Homo sapiens: one gene and its partners. The protein of the gene in region 1 purifies or fractionates together with the protein of each later gene. This does not show direct contact. Each region holds a gene or a part of one and is shown in the gene's direction. Other genes may lie near its edges.

What was found.
Region 2: the proteins of IRF2BP1 (region 1) and VGLL4 purify together in Homo sapiens (affinity purification with mass spectrometry; 4 studies listed by BioGRID and IntAct, with this or other methods). This does not show direct contact.
Region 3: the proteins of IRF2BP1 (region 1) and DCP1B purify together in Homo sapiens (affinity purification with mass spectrometry; 2 studies listed by BioGRID and IntAct, with this or other methods). This does not show direct contact.

The regions. Positions count from the first base shown.
Region 1 is NC_000019.10:45,883,129-45,890,359, reverse strand, and holds IRF2BP1 (interferon regulatory factor 2-binding protein 1), read left to right. Parts: upstream 1-4,218; 5' UTR 4,219-4,585; coding exon 4,586-6,340; 3' UTR 6,341-6,752; downstream 6,753-7,231. UniProt on the Homo sapiens protein: Acts as a transcriptional corepressor in a IRF2-dependent manner; this repression is not mediated by histone deacetylase activities. May act as an E3 ligase towards JDP2, enhancing its polyubiquitination. Represses ATF2-dependent transcriptional activation.
Region 2 is NC_000003.12:11,598,848-11,605,954, reverse strand, and holds part of VGLL4 (transcription cofactor vestigial-like protein 4), read left to right. Parts: intron 1-1,373; exon of another isoform or gene 1,374-1,631; intron 1,632-3,932; coding exon 3,933-4,122; intron 4,123-7,107. UniProt on the Homo sapiens protein: May act as a specific coactivator for the mammalian TEFs.
Region 3 is NC_000012.12:1,945,487-1,952,498, reverse strand, and holds the end of DCP1B (mRNA-decapping enzyme 1B), read left to right. Parts: coding exon 1-83; intron 84-3,164; coding exon 3,165-3,413; intron 3,414-6,212; coding exon 6,213-6,293; 3' UTR 6,294-6,446; downstream 6,447-7,012. UniProt on the Homo sapiens protein: May play a role in the degradation of mRNAs, both in normal mRNA turnover and in nonsense-mediated mRNA decay. May remove the 7-methyl guanine cap structure from mRNA molecules, yielding a 5'-phosphorylated mRNA fragment and 7m-GDP.

The DNA.
Region 1 (7,231 bases):
TATTGCCCTATGTGGGGTGGGGAGGGAACCTCTCGGGTCTGCACATCTCCCCTTCCCTAACAGTTCCTGTTCTTGACTTGAAGAGAATTGACCCGTGGGGGACTCCCCACCTCCCCAACCCAGACTTTGGAGCGGGTGGGAGTTGTAAGACAAATCAAAATACGGATGACAAAGAGGATATAGCCGTGTATACCCCAGGGAGAGGAGGCGCCGAGTTCTGATGGGAGAGGTACAGGTTGGGTTCTCTGCCTACCATTGCTGTCTCTGACTTCCAGAGCTCAACCCCCTCCTTTCTCCCAGTGGTGACAAGATATCAATAAACTTATTTTTAATACAATTACTTGAGGCTCTGTCTGAGACAGGCCTGGGGGACCAGCACCTACACCTGCCCCGCCCCCTCCACAGGCAGGCAATTGGGAGGCTGGTGGTTTTCCAGCTTTTTTTTTTTTTTAATTCTTAAAGCCATCAAGTCTTGTGTTTACATGAAATCTTATTCCTACTCTTCCTTTAGATACCAGTCTAAATGTCAACTCCAGGAGAAAGTCCTAGATTCCTTCCCCAAGGCTAACGTGGGTTTGCCTCTTAGAGTCTCTTTCAGTGTCCTGTGGTTCTTTTTCTTTTTCTTTTCCTTTCTTTTCTTTTCTTTCCGTTTTTTTGAGATAGGATCTCGTTCTGTTGCCCCAGCTGGAGTGCAGTGGCATGATCACAACTCACTGTAGCCTCGATCTCCCAGGCTGAAGCAATCCTTCTGCCTCAGCCTCCCAAGTAGCTGGGACCACAGGCATGTGCCACCATGCTCAGCTAATTGTTTTATTTTTCTAGAGATGGGGTTTTCTATGATGTCCAGGCTGATCTGGAACTCATGGGCTCAGGCAGTCCTCCCACCTCGGCCTCCCAAAGTGCTAGGATTACAAGCATGAGCCACCACACACAGCTGGGTTCTTTTTCATAGTGACTCTAAATGAACACAGGCCTTTATCTATTTAAGGCACATTTGCCCATAATGTCATGAAGGCAGGAACTGGTTCTTTTACTCTGCTGCAGGGCCAGGTAACAAAGTAGATAATCACCACCACTCTGGACTCAAGACGTGGCTCAAGTACTGGTGCTGCCCTGGCCAACTGTGTAACCATTGGCTTCCAGTGTCCTCATCTGTAGAATGGACATAAAGATGTCAGAGTCTTTCTTCCTATAATTAGATTATACTTTTCTTTTTTTTTTTTCTTTTTTTGAGGTAGAGTCTCCCTCTGTCGCCCAGGCTGGAGTGCAGTGGCGCGGTCTTGGCTCACTGCAACTTCTGCCTCTCGGGTTCAAGTGATTCTTCTGCCTCAGCCTCCCAAGTAGCCGGGACTACAGGCGTGTGCCACTACACCTGGCCAATTTTTGTATTTTTACTTATTTAGTTAGTTTTTTGTTTTTTTGTTGTTGTTTTTTGGTTTTTTTTGAGACGGAGTCTTGCATCTGTCCCCCAGGCTGGAGGTGCAGTGGTGTGAACTCATCTCCTGGGTTCATGGAATTCTCCTGCCTCAGCCTCCTGAGTAGCTGGGATTACAGGTGTGCGCCACCACACCTGGCTAATTTTTGTACTTTTTAGTAGAGATGGGGGTTTCACCGTGTTGGCCAGGCTGATCTCGAACCCCTGACCTCAAGTGATAGGGCTCCCAAAGTACTGGGATTATAGATGTGAGCCACTGCCACTGTCCGGCCTAATTTTATTTATTTATTTTTTTTTTATTTTTATTTTTTGAGATGGAGTCTCACTCTGTCGCCCAGGCTGGAGTGCAGTGGCTCGATCTTGGCTCACTGCAAGCTCCACCTTCCGGGTTCACACCATTCTCCTGCCTCAGCCTCCCGAGTAGCTGGGACTACAGGCGCCCACCACCACACCTGGCTAATTTTTTGTATTTTTAGTAGAGACGGGGTTTCACCGTGTTAGCCAGGATGGTCTCAATCTCCTGACTTTGTGATCTGCCTGCCTCGGCCTCCCAAAGTGCTGGGATTACAGGCGTGAGCCACCGCGCCCGGCCCCCTAATTTTTTAATTTTTAGTAGAGACAAGGTTTCACCATGTTGGCCAGTCTGGTCTCAAACTTCTGACCTCAAGTGATCCGCCCTCCTCGGCCTCCCAAAGTGCTGGAATTACAGGCATGAGCCACTATGGCCAGGAAAGCTTTTCCTGACACACATTCCCCACCGCAGTCATCACAAATTTTAGTTCATCATTTGAGTAAATTTACTATCTGCCTCCATCACCAGGCTGGGGCTTCTCAGGGGCAAGGCTTAAAGCCTGTCTCAGTCACTGCTATGTCCCCAGCATTGCCCAGCATGGAAGAGGGGTTGAATATTTGAATAACTGTCCAGCTTAAAAACAACTTCCATTTGTGGCACTTATTTTCTGTGCCAGGCACCAAGCTAAGCATTTATATGCATGTTTGCATTCAATCTGAAGGTACCCAAATAAAAGGAGACTGGAGGGGGTCTCCATTTTTTCCAAGAAGTTTAGAAACTGGCCCAAGGCCACAGCTGGTCAGAGGCCAATCCAGTCCACCTGAAGGCTGAATCTGGCCAGAAGCCTTAACTCCCATTAGTGTTTCGTAAATAATAGCCCAAAGGCAACTTTAAGTGACATATTAATGTCCTCTTGAATGAGTCGATAGTTTTCACTAATTTTTTTTAAGGTAACCACAGTACATGAAACCCATGATTGTGAACGTATTACCTAGGATGAGGCAAAAATAGATAAATCTTTTTATTTTTATTTATTTTTTTGAGACAGGATCTTGCTCTGTTGCCCAGGCTGGAGTGCAGTGACGCAATCATGGTTCACTGTAGCCTGTTATCTCCAGGCTCAAGCAATCCTCCCACTTCAGCCTGATAAATCTTTTTTTTAAGGGAGAAAAGTGTTCAAATACAGGTAGTAGACAAAATTGTGAAACCATTTTAAAATTGTGAGGTCTGGGTAACAGAATCAGAGCTGCTGCGGTTCCAGTGGGACGGGAGGAGAAGGGACAAGCAGCCCCTCACTAGACAAAACCAGGGCCAACTGGTACGTCATTCAAATATTTTTGAGCACCTAACACGGACCCAGGCCTAGAGAAAGGGGCTGTTGTGGGTTGGAACCTGGAGACCCGCCTCCGCCCTTCCCCAAAGACAGCCTCGTCCAGTTCCCAATGCCTGGGAAAGAAGAAGGGTCCTCACAGCCTGATTGGGCCTTCCAGGTAGTGAGCGCTCAAGGTTGGGGAAAGGTTGGTCTGGTGTTTGCCCTTCCCCAGCAACTCCCTCCTCTTGCCCGTCACTTCTTAACCCCTTACTCTTCCCTCAAACTGGGGAGCAACAGAAGATAAGGGTCCCCCAAACGCCACGCTCCGAATGCACGTAAAGAGCCCCCAGAAAAGTGGGGGGGCGGGGGGTAGCCGGGAAAGTAGCGTGAATCTGGAAGGCCTCCCCAAACCTCCCAGAGGGCGGAAGTGCGTCACTATGTCCGACCCGCAGTGCATTTTGGGAATTGTAGTGAAGCGGGTGGGGGACGCCGAGCCCCCGATGGTGTAACCCTTTAGAGACCAGAGCGCGCGGGCAGAGCTGGGACAGGGTTAGAGGGCGGCCAGTCGCCCCACTCTTTTAGCAGAGAAACAACTGAGACAAGGCTCTGGCTCGGAAGCCCTTAGTCCTCTCCCTTCTCTGGCTGTGGCGGGCCCCAGAAGCATATATCTAGGATTCCGGGGGGAGGACGAAGTGCCAGGTGGCCACCCCCACCCCCACCTAGTTGCCAGCTTCCCGTCCCTGCTCTGAAGCCAATCAGGGCTTCTCCGCCCCGCCCCAGAAGCTGCTACTTTCCTAATCCGTCATTGGCCCACCTTTGCTGGGCGGGGAAACTGAGGTTCAGAGAGGGCAAGACATTTTGCCTAAAGCTGCACAGCAAATCCGAGCAGAAGTTGGAAGCCCGGAAGCCTGTCCACCCACCCCCACAATTTCTGAATCCGGAGTAGCTCTGATCATTTGTATTGCATCCTCGCCTACCACCTTTGTGTCCCAGCATCTTGCGGCGCGCTGAACTCCGGCCCCACGGAGAAGGTTGTAAGGTTTGCGCCGGCAGAGGCGACAACCCCCCCAGCCCGCGTCTGCCCGCCGTTCCCTTTAAGAGCCGGCCCCGGCGGGACTACGTTTCCCAGAAGGCTTTGCAGGCGTGTTATGTAACTTTCCCTGCGAAGCGGCCTCTGGGGCAGAAGAAGGAGGTGGAGGCGGCGGCGGCCGTTGCAGCGGCGGCGGCGAGAGCGGCGGGAGCCCGAGGCGGCGGCGCTCGCGGCCCATCGTGGGGCCCGAGCTGTGCGCCTCGGCTCGGAGCCCGGACCGGGCGGGGGCGCCGACGTGCCTCAGCCTGCCTTCGCGAGGGAGGCGGGAGTGAGCAGAAAGGCTTAGGGCCCAGGGGGCGGGGAAGGGGGGCCGGGCCTGGATCCGGCGGGGAGGCCGAGCCGGAGGCCGGACCGTGGCTCGCGCTGTCCCCGGGACGCGGATCGAACGTTGGCGGCGCGGATCGCACGTCGGCGGCCGGTGGAACGCGGGAGCTGGGCGGCGCGCGGACTGGGGCCATGGCGTCTGTGCAGGCGTCCCGCCGCCAGTGGTGCTACCTGTGCGACCTGCCCAAGATGCCGTGGGCCATGGTGTGGGACTTCAGCGAGGCCGTGTGTCGCGGCTGCGTGAACTTCGAGGGCGCGGACCGCATCGAACTGCTCATCGATGCCGCCCGCCAGCTCAAGCGCAGCCACGTGCTCCCCGAGGGCCGCTCGCCCGGGCCCCCGGCCCTTAAGCACCCGGCCACCAAGGACCTGGCGGCGGCAGCCGCACAGGGGCCCCAGCTGCCGCCCCCGCAGGCCCAGCCCCAGCCGTCAGGGACCGGCGGCGGCGTGTCGGGCCAGGACCGCTATGACAGGGCCACATCATCAGGCCGCCTCCCCCTGCCCTCGCCCGCCCTGGAGTACACTCTGGGGTCCCGCCTGGCCAATGGGCTGGGCCGTGAGGAGGCCGTGGCTGAGGGGGCGCGAAGGGCCTTGCTTGGCTCCATGCCTGGCTTGATGCCCCCTGGGCTGCTGGCAGCTGCAGTGTCTGGCCTGGGAAGCCGAGGCCTGACGCTGGCACCCGGCTTGAGTCCTGCCCGTCCCCTCTTCGGCTCCGATTTCGAGAAAGAGAAGCAGCAGAGGAATGCGGACTGTCTGGCAGAACTGAACGAGGCCATGCGAGGCCGGGCAGAGGAATGGCACGGGCGCCCCAAAGCAGTGCGGGAACAGCTACTGGCGCTGTCCGCCTGCGCCCCGTTCAATGTGCGCTTCAAGAAGGATCACGGGCTGGTGGGGCGAGTGTTCGCCTTCGATGCTACTGCCCGTCCTCCAGGATACGAGTTCGAGCTGAAGCTCTTCACCGAATACCCCTGTGGTTCCGGCAATGTGTACGCCGGCGTCCTGGCAGTGGCTCGCCAGATGTTCCACGATGCTCTGCGGGAGCCGGGCAAGGCACTGGCTTCTTCGGGCTTCAAGTACCTCGAATATGAACGCCGGCATGGATCAGGAGAATGGCGGCAGCTGGGCGAGCTGCTTACCGACGGCGTCCGCAGCTTCCGCGAGCCAGCTCCCGCGGAGGCCCTGCCCCAGCAGTACCCAGAGCCGGCCCCTGCGGCTCTCTGTGGCCCACCCCCGCGAGCCCCATCCCGGAACCTGGCGCCCACGCCGCGCCGTCGCAAGGCATCCCCCGAGCCGGAGGGCGAGGCGGCTGGGAAGATGACCACCGAGGAGCAGCAGCAACGGCACTGGGTGGCACCCGGCGGCCCGTACTCCGCTGAGACCCCTGGTGTGCCCTCGCCCATTGCCGCCCTGAAGAATGTGGCCGAAGCCCTGGGCCACTCACCCAAGGACCCTGGCGGAGGCGGGGGGCCTGTGCGTGCAGGGGGCGCCAGCCCTGCAGCCTCCTCCACGGCCCAGCCGCCAACCCAGCATCGCCTTGTGGCCCGCAACGGCGAAGCAGAAGTCAGTCCCACAGCGGGGGCCGAAGCTGTCAGCGGGGGTGGCAGCGGCACTGGGGCGACCCCTGGGGCCCCCCTGTGCTGTACCCTGTGCAGGGAGCGGCTAGAAGACACCCACTTCGTCCAGTGCCCCTCGGTGCCCGGACACAAGTTCTGCTTTCCCTGCTCCCGGGAGTTCATCAAGGCGCAGGGCCCGGCCGGGGAGGTGTACTGCCCGAGCGGAGACAAGTGCCCGCTGGTCGGCTCCTCCGTGCCCTGGGCCTTCATGCAGGGCGAGATCGCCACCATCCTTGCTGGAGACATCAAAGTTAAGAAAGAACGGGACCCCTAGGCTACCACTGCCTCCAGGCTACTGCCCTCTGCCCCTTTGCCACCCACCGCTGCCGCGGATAAATTATTCCCTCCCCGACCCAGCCCAGTGCCACCTCTATCTGTGTACATACTCCCTTCTTCCACCCAGATGGGTCCCCTGGGGTAGATGCATTGTGGGTGGGGGGAGAAAGCTTGTGGCTCCTGTCCGAGGGGGTGTTTGGGGTCCCTTGGCCCCTCCAGTTTCCCTCTGTCCTCCTTGGCTTGGCTTTGCTGCTGCTTGTAGTTGGGGGAGAGGTGCCCCCCTCCTCCTTGAGAAGGGACCTCCTGAAAACTCGCTCTTTATAAACGAGGCAAAAGCATTTAATTCCCACCCCCCCACCCCCCGCTCCCTTCTGCTCCTTCAATAAACCGAAAGATGGGTTTTTTTTTTCCTTCTTGGTCCCTTAGTTGTGTGAGATGCTGCGCCCCCTTTGGGACTGAACTGGTCCTGCGAGGGCGAGGACGTTGCGCGGTAGCCTCCAGGTGGCGCCCTGCACCCAGGCGGTCCCGCCGGCCGACCTTCAACAAGTGCGACCCACTGGTCACGTTTCAGCCATCGGCCCGTTTTCCAGATAAAAGTACTGAGGCTCAGAGAGGGGATGGCTCCTGCAGGGGAGCCACAGACAGGCTTGGGAGTAGATTACCCTTCTGTAGCTGACCCATCCCCTATCTCTACCTGGAAGGTGGAGGACTCAGCGCCTACGTGGGGAGGGGAAAGAGGCAGCGGGAGGCTTCCTAGAAGACATGGGCAGTGGGTTCTTGCCGGGTAGAAGGGAGAATTTAGGGTAGACTGCTAGAGGGACTGCCCGAGGAAAGAGGAAATTTACCTCCACGGGGTAAACTAACAGGATGCCTAGAAACAACTTGGCTA
Region 2 (7,107 bases), on another chromosome or scaffold:
TTGGCTATTTTCATATCTTCTCTTCGGAAATGCCTATTTAGATCCTTTTCTATTTTTTGTTATCTTTTTAATTGTTGTAAGAGTTCTTATATTTTTAAATAGATCTTTAAACACTCCTTATTCTATAACATCTTTGATCTTTAACATATCCTAAAGCTCTGTAAACTGCCCACCCTGTCACCTTGCCTCATTGATTCAGTAGGTCAGTTGTGCTCTGCACTGTCAGGTTTATTAAATGAATTAAATGCCACCTGCTTCCAGGAGCACAAAATAAAGTAGGGAGGGAAGCACCAGAGTGATAAGTTTCTATAGATGTTCAGAGGAAGAGGAGATGACCTTCAGCTGGAGGAATCAAGGAGGACAGCCTGATGGAGGAGGCATTTTAAGTGGTTTTGCAGGATGTATGAACTTAAATGAGAAGATTGGGGGAAGAACAAGTTCTCTGTGGAATGGTGATGAGTCTAGTTTAACTTACTGGGCTGAAATTTTCAGGGCTCATAAAGAGGAATACTAGGAATAAAAATGAGAAAGGCAGTTGGGGTTTCGAATGCAGAAGAAGTCTGCAGTCACTGGATATCTGGGGTGAGGATGGGCCAACATGCTGAGAATGGCGCTTTGGAAGATGGAATTCACAGAGCTGTGGAGGATTGGGGGTGGGGGGTGGGCGTGGGGGCGCTTTGGAAGATGGAATTCACAGAGCTGTGGAGGATTGGGGGTGGGGGGTGGGCGTGGGGGCGCTTTGGAAGATGGAATTCACAGAGCTGTGGAGGATTGGGGGTGGGCGGGGGCGTGGGGCGCTTTGGAAGATGGAATTCACAGAGCTGTGGAGGATTGGGGGTGGGGGGTGGGCGTGGGGGCGCTTTGGAAGATGGAATTCACAGAGCTGTGGAGGATTGGGGGTGGGCGGGGGCGTGGCGGGCGATGGAAAGCAGCCCTGCGGGGTTTCCATCTCAGAGACTGAGATGCATTAGAAGACAGAAAGGCCTGTAGTTAAACTCCTGTAAAAGTTGTTCAATCTCACGGTTTCCAAATTTATTTGACCCCAGGGTCACCCTTGTTTTTTTCGATGAATAACATCTGAGGTACATACCTTGAGTTTTGCTGTCTTAGTTCACCATTACACAAGTAGCAATTTCTTTGTAAATGTTGGTTAGTTGGTTGGTCACTTGTTGATCATAGAATTGCATCAGTAATTCTAAGAGCTGGAAAGAACATGACACATTAGCTAGTCCAGCCCCTTGTTGTATGGAGGGAGGCCCAGAGAGGGGAAGCACGTGCCCAAATTCACCCCATCCTAAATAAAGGAGGAGTCAAGATTGCAATGCAAGTGTCTTATCTCCCAGAACAAATGTCTGCTTCAGTTTTACAAAAATAATTTTAACCCCACCACACATACAACAGTTACCACTCTTGTCTAACATACAAGTGTTGGGTTAAGGCCATCTAGGGAGGGGCCCCAAAGATGCATAAAGGCACATAACTGAACGGACCTGTCCCTGACCTTATGTGCGGATTCTTTTCCTTTGCTGTAAGCCTTGTGTGAGGCTGCACAGTCTTAGGATGAGGCGTTGTCTGATTGCAGAGGCCATGGGTTCTTGCCTCCAGCTAACCTGTTAACTGGAGGATCTTGGGTAAGTCACGCTATGTTTTGGGGCACAGCTTCGTCATCCATCAAATGAGGCAAACCGTGCTTCCTGGGCTCCTTCCGGCGCCGGCAAGCTGAGATGCTGAAGTACTACAGCACGCATTTACCACCGTCTCCCCGGGACCTGGTGGAGGCGTCTGTCACAGTCCCTGGTGAAGGACACCTGGAGTGCCTTCATGGGGCCTGTAGCCCCAGCCCTGGTCCCACCCCCACCCGTGGGTTAGAAATCTCCAGTGTTTTCTGAGGATTCTTGTGGAATTTTTTTCGATGTTAGACATCAGTGATTCAGTCTTAAAGATAAGCACTGCATCCGTTGGATGAACTTAAAAATGCAAACAAGCACGAGAATTTTTACTAGGATGGAAACTGGGGAGGGGAGTGGGAATGTTGTTCTTAACCCAAGGGTTTTGCTTTCCGCGTCACAGTGTATGCTGGTGGAATGAGTGACGGCTCCTTTTTTGGAGTGATTTCAGTCTGTTGCTGTAGTGGTTGTTTTCCATAGCAACTCTTGTTGCTACACAGCTGGCATCTGATGAAATGATGACCACAGTTCGGGGGTCCAAGCCCGAGGACTCCTCATCCCCTCGCATCCTGCCAGGGGTGTTGAGAAACCCTGGGTGGAGAGGAGGGTCAGCTGGTGCCATTTTGATGAGGTTTGATTTGCAGTTGCTGCGTTCCTGGGGGTATCATCAGGGCTTCCCAGAAAGTTAGCTGGGCTTGGGCTTCTGAAGCTTTCCCTTGGAAACACCCTCTTCTCTCTTTGTGGAGGAGGAAGTATCACAAATAACGGAGATAATTAGAAAGGATATTTTTCTAATTTATGAAGGTATAAAGATGAGCACTGCTTTTTTTGTTTTTTAAAATGAAAATTACTAAATAGGGAGTATAGGCCAACCAAGATCATACTGAATTTCTGAGTGTGGCAGGCCAGCGTGAGGCCTGTGTTTTAGGTATCTCATTTAAAATGGAAAGTTCCAGTTTGCTTTGGGGCCAGAATCCTTAAAAGAAATCCTGGCTGGAGGTGTATTATGGGTCACTGTATATTTGCTAGTTTATATCTTGCTGAGTAAATTGGCCAAGTTTTTATTTTTCCTGGTAAATATTCAGAGGGTTTTTCCTCACTCCTTTCTCCAACAAAATCATATTTGTCATATGTGTATGAAGTAAATGACTGTTAACACTGTCCACACATCTGTGATGATATGAAAATTAGTGGTGGCAAACAAAGATTCCTTTTCTTAGGTACCACAAGGCCTCGGATGAAGTTGACTTTATCCTCGTATTACTCTCAAATTGTGACCAAATGGAAAGAAAATTGGTCAGGTCCGAGAGACCAAAATGTACAGCACAACAAAAGGGTTATTATTTGTGAAAAATTTAGGTGCTCCCCCCATGTGACTTAGAAAGTTTGAAGTTTTCTCTTAAAGTAATCATTCGTCTTTATAAAGTTTAGAAGGTACACAAGCTTTATTACTATGAAAGGCTATGCTTATTTTAATTCACAGCGAGGCACAAAGTGATTGCCTAGTACAAAACCTTTTAAAATAATAATGAAAAACGCCAAGATGTCAAATCAAATGGAAATGTGGACCCTAATTTGATTGCCTAACTTCGAAACATGTTTCAGAACTGCACCTACCCACGTATTATGCTTGCGATAAGTTATATGCCGAAGCTTTGTGCTGATAATATTTTAATGTGCAATATTTAGCGTACTGTAAGAATTAAACATTTATTTCCCATTAAACGATGTATTTATATTTCTTTTAACTTTCGGTACAAATGTGTGAACTGTTAGCCCACACACTTTCCTCATTCTTTTAAAAGAAATTAAATACCAAGACTATATTAGAAAAAAAAAACAGAACAAGCAGGAAAAGTGAGTTGGGCATAGTGGTTTCATGAATGCAGTGAGGTCATTCTCCTATCTGTATCGAGTGGAATACCCACACGTGAAAAGACCTTTGGTGTTTTAAATTAACTTTTGAAATTGTTTACAGAAAATGCTTTTTGCCTCCCCCCTGCTATTTTATTGCAACTTTTTATTTTAAACTCTACCCTAAAGAGTGACTGTGCTAGAAAACCACGTTGATGTAAAATGTCTCATGGTTGGCAGCTAACCACACTCAAACCATGTTCAGAGGATGGCAGGCGGCCCCGTCCCATTGCCAAAAACTTTCCACTGGGAGTAGTTTTGTAAGGGGCTGGCTGGGCGGGCGGGGAGCCTGGGGGACTGAGATGGGGGCCTTTCTCCTGCTTAGTGACTACATCATCTCTCTCTGCGTAGGCGAAGCTGCTCTCAGGGGAGAACCCAGAATACAGACCCTGCCGGTGGCCTCTGCCCTCAGCAGTCACCGCACCGGCCCTCCCCCAATCAGCCCCAGCAAGAGGAAGTTCAGCATGGAGCCAGGTGACGAGGACCTAGACTGTGACAACGACCACGTCTCCAAAATGAGTCGCATCTTCAACCCCCATCTGTGAGTTCCTCTGTTCTTATTTTGGCTTAAGGGTGCTCCGTGCTGGGGCCTTATTTGTTTTGCAACTTTGTGCTAATTCTGATGTTATCATTTGCATACTTTATTTGAAAAGGATATTATTTACAAAAGAAAAATAGTATTCATCTGCCAAAAAGAAGGTAGTAAACTCATTTTGATAACTCGCGGTGAGGTGGAAGTCTGGCTTCCCTCCAGCCTACTTGTAGGACCTTCCGCATGTTAAACTCCATAGAAGTTAATGTCCCCTTAGAGCTTCTGCGAGCAGTCGAGTAGTCATCTGCTAAGCTTCGCTTTTTTTTGCCCATACATATTGATTGTTTTTAGGAGAATCAACATTTAGTGAATGTCACTGTGCACCAGACAAATAGAAGGGAAGCTCAGCACCTTTTTGACCAAGCAGACGTCTGTAAAGTTCTTACTCAGGAGTCTAGGATTGTACACACGAAGAAGTGTTCATCCCACCTTATGTGCCCCTGGTACAAACTTGGGACCTTCCCATAAAGGGAAGCCAGCTTCCTATGCTCATGACAAGGTGCCACTCACCACATCCAGCCAGTCCTTGATCTGCCACTGACACTGTCTACCTTCTTGACATGAATTGCTTCAACTCTTTGGGCCTCAGTTTTGTTATTTGTGAAACACGGGCTGAAACCACAGATCCCTGAATCTGTGCAACGTCACCATGTTTCCACTGGAAAAGCCTCCCGCTTCCGTGCACCCGGCTTCTCCCCTTTGCACTCTCCTCTCGGCACACACCCTCCTCGCAGAGGGAGAGGCTTCTCCCCAGTTTTCAGGACTTGGAGACGCCCCACCAGCTGCCCAGAGAGTCTACGGGTACAGTGGTGAGGGCGGTTGGTGTTCTTGGAGTTATCTTGCCAATCCTGGCAAGGTTGCACTGAGTATTGGAGGGAGTAGCTTTGTGTGTGCAGGTACAGAGGTCCTCCTCCTTCCCCCTTCCCAAGCGCTCACTCTAGCATGAGTCAGTGTTTCCTCATTATTCAAGATGCTCCAATTCCTGAGGGCACTGCTTTTTCCCCACAGGAATACCTTCCTGTGAGGGCTCCTCCTTGGAGGCAGAGTTTCCGCAGAGAGGTGGCCCAGCTCCCGCCTCTACTGCCTCAGCTCCAGCGTCCTCGCATTCCGCTCGTTCCAGTCAGCTTGGACTGTTGTGTTCAGTCATAAGACACTGACAGAGGTATTTATCCTCAAATAAATCACTGCAGTGTTAGTCAGAGGCTGAGCCTGCAGTCTGGAGCCCTGGAATTTGCTACCATCAGGAATCCAGCAGGAAGGCCCTGCAAACAGTGCACTCCGCAGGCAGGGCTAGCTTAACTCCTGGGTGCTCAGCTCTTGCAGTTCATTCTTTTATTCCCACGAATTTCTTATACTTTCCCATCTGCTTTTCCCAAACCCAAATAAGAACATTTGGTCTTTTTTTTTTTTTCTTTTTCTTTTCATAAGTAAGAAAGGGGAAGGCAGCCTGCAGACAAACATGCCTTAATTTAAATCCTGATTCTGCCACACAACAGCTGTGAGGCTTTGGACAAGTCACTTAATTTAGCTGGGCCCAGTATCCTTGACAGTGATATCCTTGTCATTGGACAATGACAATGACAATGATAATAGTTAATGTATAGAGCTATTACGAGGACTAGAGTTAAAATATGCAAAGAGCTTGGCATGGTATAGCACTTTGTTGATGGGGGTTGTTATTTTTATTCCATTGTTCAGATACTGGTTATGATGATAGAGAGTAAGAAAATATACATATGTATATATGGTGGATTTAATGTTTGATAGTATGTGCCTTTTAATCAAAATGCCTGGGTTCAATTCCCACTTTCTTTATCTTTCATCACAGATAATATTAATTCCTTCCTCATAGGATTATTGTAAGGACTTAAGAATGGTGCCTGGCAGATAGTAAGTACTCAGCTTTAGTCATTGTTAATATTATTATTAGAATATTAAAATGTTCAGAAAATAATTTTGTGGCTAGGCGCAGTGGCTCACACACCTGTAATCCTGGCACTTTGGGAGGCCAAGGTGGGTGGATCACCTGAGGCCAGGAGTTCGAGACCAGCCTAGGCAACATGGCAAAACCCTGTCTCTACTAAAATTACAAAAAACTAGCTGGGTGTGGTGGTGCATGCCTGTCATCCCAGCTACTCGGGAGGCTGAGGCATGAGAATCACTTGAACCTTGGAGGCAGAGCTTGCAGTGAGCCGAGATCGCGCCACTGCACTCAGCCTGGGTGACAGAGCGAGACTCTGTCTCAAAAAAAAAAAAGAAAATAATTTTGTAGCTCTCTTGGTGGCTAAAAATAAGACTTTGAGGTACGGGTCTGTGATGACACTATAAATAATTTTAAGTGTAAATAATAGAATCGCCAAATTTTATGTGCAAATCACAATTGACATTATTATGCAAAGTTTTAGGAAAATAGAAACAGGAGTAACCTCCTCTCTCAGACTCCCTTACACCAGCCAGGTGACTCCCCCCTCATTTTTCTTTTATTGTGGTAAAAAATATATATATTATAAAATGTATTTTCTTAAGTGTACAGTGTAAGGAGGAAAGGCGATTGGCGTGTGGTTAGGTCCTTCTGAGTGTTACTTGTTTACTGTGTGATAGTTATTTTAGTAACATTACCATTGTTTGTACTGTGTTTTCTAAGAGCCTAATGACAGATTTCACAGGCAGATTGGAAAGATGCTGCCTGTCTTACTTCTTCGTGTTGTAGGGTATTTAGTGCTGCTGTTTGATGAAATGTTTCCTATTTGGGCTATAGCATGCTCCCTCCTTTATATTTAATGCCTAAGAAGTTATCTGCAATAAATGACAGATTCATAATTATTTGAAAAGGAATAGCCTAGTGTATCTCTTTAAGGAGATTACAAAATGGTTTTTGTGCTTTATCTTCTTAGAGTTTGTTAATAACATGTAATGAAAATGTGATGTATTTTA
Region 3 (7,012 bases), on another chromosome or scaffold:
CTCAGAGCTCTGGAACAGGGAAACCCTTGGAATCCTGGATCAACAAGACACCCAACACAGAACAGCAGACTCCTCTTTTCCAGGTAAATATGTACCAGGGGCAAAATAAAACAGCCTGGGCAGCATAGCAAGATCCTGTCCCTAAAAAAAAAAAAAAAGTAGCCAGGCTTGGTGTCACACGCCTATAGCACCAGCTACTGAGGAGGCTGAGGTGGGAGGATCCCTTGAGCTCAAGAGGCGGAGGTTACAGTGAACCATGATCGTGCCACTGCACTCCAGCCTGGGTGACAGAGCGAGACCCTGTCTGTTAAGAAAAAAAAAGACAGACAAAGAAAAAGGTATTACTATAATGCAGTGAAATGTAGAGTCCACTTCCATGCTCTAGGGACCAATGTGTCACGTACATTTCTGTTTGGAGCAGGGTGCACCTCCGTGCATCTTGATTGCCTGAACTTTCTACCTGGAAGGAGAATCTTCACTTTGGTTAACAATCTGAGAACTTCCCCCAACCTTTTTGAGAGCATTACTTGTAGAGTTAAATCTTCGTTATATTAGGAGGTCTGAAGACCAACACAGACATGGGAGAAAACCGTAATTTTTGACTGTAGGAACTTAGTATGGTCTGCCTTGAAATCAATCTGGAATGCCAAGCAACTGACCTCCTCTTGTTTTTCAGTCCACAGTAAATTATTCACTTATTTAGTAAATATTTTTGAGCACTTACTACATGTCAGGCATTGTCTACATGTGGGTACATAATGATGAAGAAAACAGACTCCTTACCCACAGCCCATGCTGTAGGTTCTTGAAATAAACAAAAAACAGCCTATTTCCTCCTGAAAGGTGCAGCCAGTTTTTATCTTTCTCTGTATCGTCAGTATAGCCTACTGTAGATCAGGAGAGGTATGCATGCCACCCACCTCCACCCCCCACACAAACTGCCAGAGAGGGAAAATATGACAGTTTTTAGAAAGATTCTCTCCTTTAGAGAAGATGCTTTTCCATGTCCATCACTGACTTGGGACAGTGAGGAAACCACAAGCTATTGATCATCTGCCTGTGGGTAACATCTGGAGATCTGACATTGAATTGTTTTCCCTTTGGATTGGAACACATTCATTGAAAGTACATTGGGTTTAAAAATTGGAAAGTTCTCCCTGTGTATCACATATATCATCACTGGCCCTTTGTCATGTTTTGTTATGTACCTTTTTTTGTTTTTTGAGACAGAGTTTCACTCTTGTCGCCCAGGCTGGAGTACAATGGTGCGATCTCGGCTCACTGCAACCTCCACCTCCCGGGTTCAGGCGATTCTGCTGCCTCAGCCTCCTGAGTAGCAGGGATTACAGGCACCTGCCACCACACCTGGCTAATTTTTTGTATTTTTTTAGTAGAGACGAGGTGTCACGATGTTGGCCTGGCTGGTCTCGAACTTCTGACCTCAGGTGATCCACCCACCTCGGGCTCTCAGAGTGCTGGGATTACAGTCGTGAGCCACTGCACCTGGCCTGTTATGTAACTTATAACAGTTTCTCAAAAATCTTGAACTTTTGGCTGGGCATGGTGACTCGTGCCTGTAATCCCAGCACTTTGGAGGTTAAGATAGGAGAATCGCTTGAACCTAGGAGTTTCAGACCAGCCTGGGCAACATAGACCCTGTCTCTACAAGAATTTTTTGTTTTTAATTAGCCGGGTATGGTGGCATGCCACTGTGGTCCCAGCTACTTGGGAGGCTGAAGTGGGAAGATTGCTTGAGCCCAAGAAGTTGAGGCTGCAGTCAGCCATGTTTGCACCACTGCACTCCAGCCTGGGCAGTAGAGTGAGACCTTGTCTCAAAACAAAAAATTCAGTTTTTTGAAAACAAAGACCTTAGGCATGTGCCAAAAGTCTTTGTGAGCCCCTGAGTCAAAGTGTTCTCATTTATTATTTATTAACATCCCAAATCTGAGTACCGACTGCTATAGAAACAATATTTATAACTCCCACTCCCCCTCATTTCAGTGTTATTGTCCCTTTTTTAAAAATGTCTGCTTTTTTCCTCTTTGATGATTTAGAATTAGAAGCATGCGATGAATATAGTCTGACTTAAATTTCTGATGTACAACTCCCTTGACTTTTCAGTACTCACAAATATCAAGAGCCGAGTGAGAAAGGCAAGCATTTCAGCAGCCCACGCTGTGCTCAGAATGCTTGACTCCACCTCCGGGAGCATCACTGCTCAGCACCGCTCCTCGAAATGTCATGTAGGGACAAGTTAAAAGAAACAGCCTGCCTTCCTCTAGGCCAACTTTTGCTCAAAGAGACGCTAAGGGATTGATTATAAAATTACAGCAACTTCTAGCTTGCTGGCCTCCTTGCCTCCCTCTTAGGAGTTCTTTCGGGGAGTTCGGAGGCTGATAAATAACATTCTTTTTCTTCCCTGAGTTAGAAGCAAATGATAGCTGTAGGAGTCAGTCAGATAAGGATCAAAATGTCACTTGCATAACTGAAAGGGCTGTTAGAAAACTTGGTTTCAGGTCTGTTTGCCAAGGGAGTTAGACTCAGCAGACAGGCTCTGGCAGGGCTGAGCAACAGGCCGCCCGGGTCAGCCCAAACACATCAGCTGCGGAAGCTGAAGATGAGGGCTCTCTGCAGGCAGGCAGATCCTGTCAGGGAAGGACCCAGAAGGGGTGGACCCACACATCACTCTCCCTCCCCACGAGAAGTGAGTGAGGCCGCAGGAGGGGCGGGGAGTTGCTCTCACAGCGCCTCCTGTGCTCCGGGGTCAGGAGGGGAAATGGGGAGGCCCCTAACAAGGGTGGCAGCTCACATAGGTTGTGAGACCTTTAGGTCAGGGTCATGGACAACCAGGTCTAAGGAAAAGGTCAGTAGTCCTAAATGCACTTGCCAAATACTGGTAGCCTGAAAAATAAGCTGTCACCCAGAGGCCAAGCTGCATATGCAGTGGAAAGAATAGTCCCCACAGCAGACGATACCAGAGCTGCTCAGTGATGCTGAAGGAAGGTGCATGGAGCAGTGGAGCAAGAATCAGTTTCCCATAAACTTTTCTCAGCTAGGAAAGCTGTGGACAGGGAATGCTTAGACCACCCGTATCTGCCGCTGCAAGCTATCATGCCGTGAGCTGCTCCTGAACCCCGCTCTCTGTGTGTATTTGCTGTGAGCAGGTCATCTCACCTCAGCGCATCCCTGCTACAGCAGCTCCGTCTCTGCTTATGTCCCCCATGGTGTTCGCACAACCCACCTCCGTCCCGCCAAAGGAAAGGGAGAGCGGCCTCTTGCCTGTGGGAGGCCAGGAGCCACCTGCTGCTGCCACCAGCCTCCTCCTGCCCATACAGAGCCCGGAGCCCTCCGTGATCACCAGCAGCCCACTCACCAAGCTCCAGCTCCAGGAGGCACTGCTGTACCTCATTCAGGTAAGCAAGCACGTCATCTCCCTTCGCACCTGACCACGCCTGTTGGCCTCCTGGCTGCAACTATGAGATAAAGACTCAGCCAAGGCCTGCTTAGCTTCCGTGAGAATAACAGGTGTGTGTAACAACTCATCCTGACCCCAGCGGCTTCTGTGCTCAGTTAGCTAGGTGTTATTTATAATACCAAGTGTGGCTTGGGTGTCTCAGCTCTTCAAGGATTTTGTAATTTGAAGGACTGTCTAAGGCCTCCAAGCTGTCACCTGTCAGAAGAGAAGGAAGCATATGCTGGGGATTAAGCAGTCCCTGAGAGGACCCTGGGTGCTGGAGGCCCAGACAGAAAACTCACCATTGGGAGGTAGAGGTGGGAGCAGTCCTGGGCAAGGGGCCATCTGTTGAGTGGGGAAGAGGCCACTGAGCGAGTGGAAAACAGGGAGGGAAGCAAATAATGGCCATGGCTGCTACAGGTATGTTTTACAAGTCATTTTGAAACCTGCTCATTAGGACGGGATGGAGTGACAGGACTCCTTGTGAGCTGCTAGCCTCACTTGCCTATGAAATTATGAAATAATAATGAGTGCTATAATAGCTAACACTCCACAGAGCTGGCGCCGGGCCCTATTTTCAGTGCTACACACAAGCATATAACTCATTCACTCCTTACATAACAACCCTGTTATTTTTCCCATTCTACAGACAAGGAAACTGAGGCTGAGCAACTGGCCTGAGGCACGGAGCTCGTACATAAGCAGGGCTGGGATGCACCCAGCCTGGCCCCCGAGTGCCACTTCCCACGTACTCTCCCGTGGGCCACGTTCACCACATGAATGTTGGCAGGGACCAGCCTCGGGAGAACATTCAGCACAGGTGCCCTAGCAAAGCACACCCAAGAAATCAACGGCAGTCCTTGAAAAGTGGAACATTTGTAGCCAGACAGACTTCAGACACCCCAGTTAACATATTTAGGTGTCTTTTTGGTAGATAATCTTTAAGAAAACTTGTGTGGTACTTTGCTTAAGCATCAGACGGCCTTTAGAGAGCAGGCCAGCCCTTCTGCGGTTGTCTTATCCTACTTAAAAAGACAGTGGTCTCAATTAGTACAACATTTTTAAAAAGGTTCCATGTTGGCCGGGCACAGTGGCTGCTCACGCCTGTAATCCCAGCACTTTGGGAAGCCAAGGTGGGAGCATTGCTTGAGGCCAGGAGTTCAAGACCAGCCTGAGCAACATAGCGAGACTACAAAAGAAGGAAACATGTTTGAGGAAGAATGAAAGGAATGGGGCTAGAAGTCAGCAGAAGCATAATAACAATCAGAGATAAATAAGGTCAACAGCAAATGATTGAGCCCTACTAATTCATAAGTAAATATCAGGATAAAAATATTTGCCACCTTTTAAAGCTATTCATAGTAAGCTCAGGAGGAATTAGACATCTGTGAACCTCTTTACTTTGAGCCAGTTTCTTAAGTTGTAATTTAAAAGATCCATATGTTTTCTGGCTGATTCCCTTCACATTGTCTTGAGACTCTACTCCAGAGTAGTGGCTGAACATGGCGGATTAGAAATTACATTCCCCTGCCCTCCACTCTGCGTGCATTTTACTTCTTCCCGTGTACCACACCTCATATTCCCAGTCACTCAAGCAGTCTGTTTTTAGTTTCTGCCTCTTGTTAGGACACAATCTCATGCAGAGGAACTTTGTGACTACTTTGCAGGAAAAAGAGGGATAACATCACTCTCTTCATTGCATGAGAATGATGCTAAATCTGTGTGGGGTGCCAAGAGGGAATGAAGGGGGAATGTGAAGTGTGGGTGAATTACTAACACTGTAAAGAATTTGGGTGGGAGGGAGAAGTCTCTAGAATTAAAACATGAGGAAAACCACTGATTAGACCGTGATTCTCACTCCTTAGCCAGGCAAAAGAGCCCAGAGATTACCAGTCTTACTCCTGCCCACTTGCCAAGGCTAGAAACTTTCCATAACTTATGGGAAGACTTATATTAGCTTTGATGAAGTACTGATGAAGCATATTGCAAGTAAAATCCTAAGTAATGCCCAAAACAAAGCAGACACATTGTAGGTGACTTGGAGGGCCTTTAAGAACCACAGTGGCTCATGCCTGTAATCCAACACTTGGGGAGGCCAAAGTGGGAGGCTCACTTGAGCCCAGGAGTTCAAGACCACCCTGAGCAACATAGTGAGACCCTGTCTTAACAAAAAACTTAAAAGCCAGGCATGGTAGCACGCACCTGTAGCCCTAGCTACTCTGGAGGCTGAGGTGGGAGGATCGCTTGAACCCATGAGGTTGAGGCTGCAGTGAGCTATGATGGCACTACTGCACTTTAGCTTGGGTGACAGAGTGAGACCCAGTCTCAAAAACCCAAAAAACAAGAAACAAAAAAACACACCACAGCAATCTCTTAACCAAACTTTGAGACCACTGACTTGGATCATGTCCTCCTAACTCCTCTGTCTGCTGGGGCTTCATGTCTTTTCATGCAGCAGACCCAGGCTGTTCTTGAGTAAACCTTGCTCCATGCTGCCATGTGTCTGGGCTGCCCATCTGTGCTGCATGTAATGAGCTCTTGCTGCTGTGCATACTGACCATGGAAAACCATCAGCTCTGTCCGGCCTTGCCGTCAACCCCACTTAACATTCACACATGCAATTAAAAACCACCAGCTGTTAGACAGGGAGAGATGAGTGTCTCAGTATCCAAAGGCCAGTTCAGCTCTAAGACAGAGGAAGCCTTTTGTGTCTGCCAACCAAGTAACATTCTCTTGGGTCTTTCGATTTGTTTTCCAGAATGATGACAACTTCTTAAATATAATCTATGAAGCCTATCTCTTCAGCATGACTCAAGCAGCCATGAAAAAGACTATGTGACAGCAAGGCCTTTTAAAACTGATTTTCAAGGTCCTTCTAGAACTCCGGCACAAGGTTCTTTCATGTTGAGTGTTGTTTCCTTCAATGTTTCTGCCTTTTTTAAAAAAAAAGTATGTGTAATATGAAGTAAAATGTTTCAGACTTTTTTTTATACTCAAGTGTTTTTTAATTATTATTATACTTTAAGTTCTGGGGTACATGTACAGAACATGCAGGTTTGTTACATAGGTATACACATGCCATGGTGGTTTGCTGCACCCATCAACCCATCATCTACATTAGTATTTCTCCTAACGCGCTTCCTCCCCTAGTCCCCCACCCCGCGACAGACCCCAGTGTGTGATGTTCCCCTCCCTATGTCCGTGTGTTCTCATTGTTCAATTCCCACCTGTGAGTGAGAACATGTGGTGTTTGGTTTTCTGTTACTTTGTTAGTTTGCTGAGAATGATGGTTTCCAGCTTCATCCATGCCCCTGCAAAGGACAAGAACTCATTCTTTTTTATGGCTGCATAGTATTCCCTGGGTGTATATATGCCGTATTTTCTTTATCCAGTCTATCATTAATGGACATTTGGGTTGGTTCCAAGTCTTTGCTATTGTGAATAGTGCTGCAATAAACATACGTGTGCATGTGTCTTGATAGTGGAATGATAATCCTTTGATTATAGTAGAGTTACAATCCTTTGGGTATATACCCAGTAATAAGTAGAGTTATAATC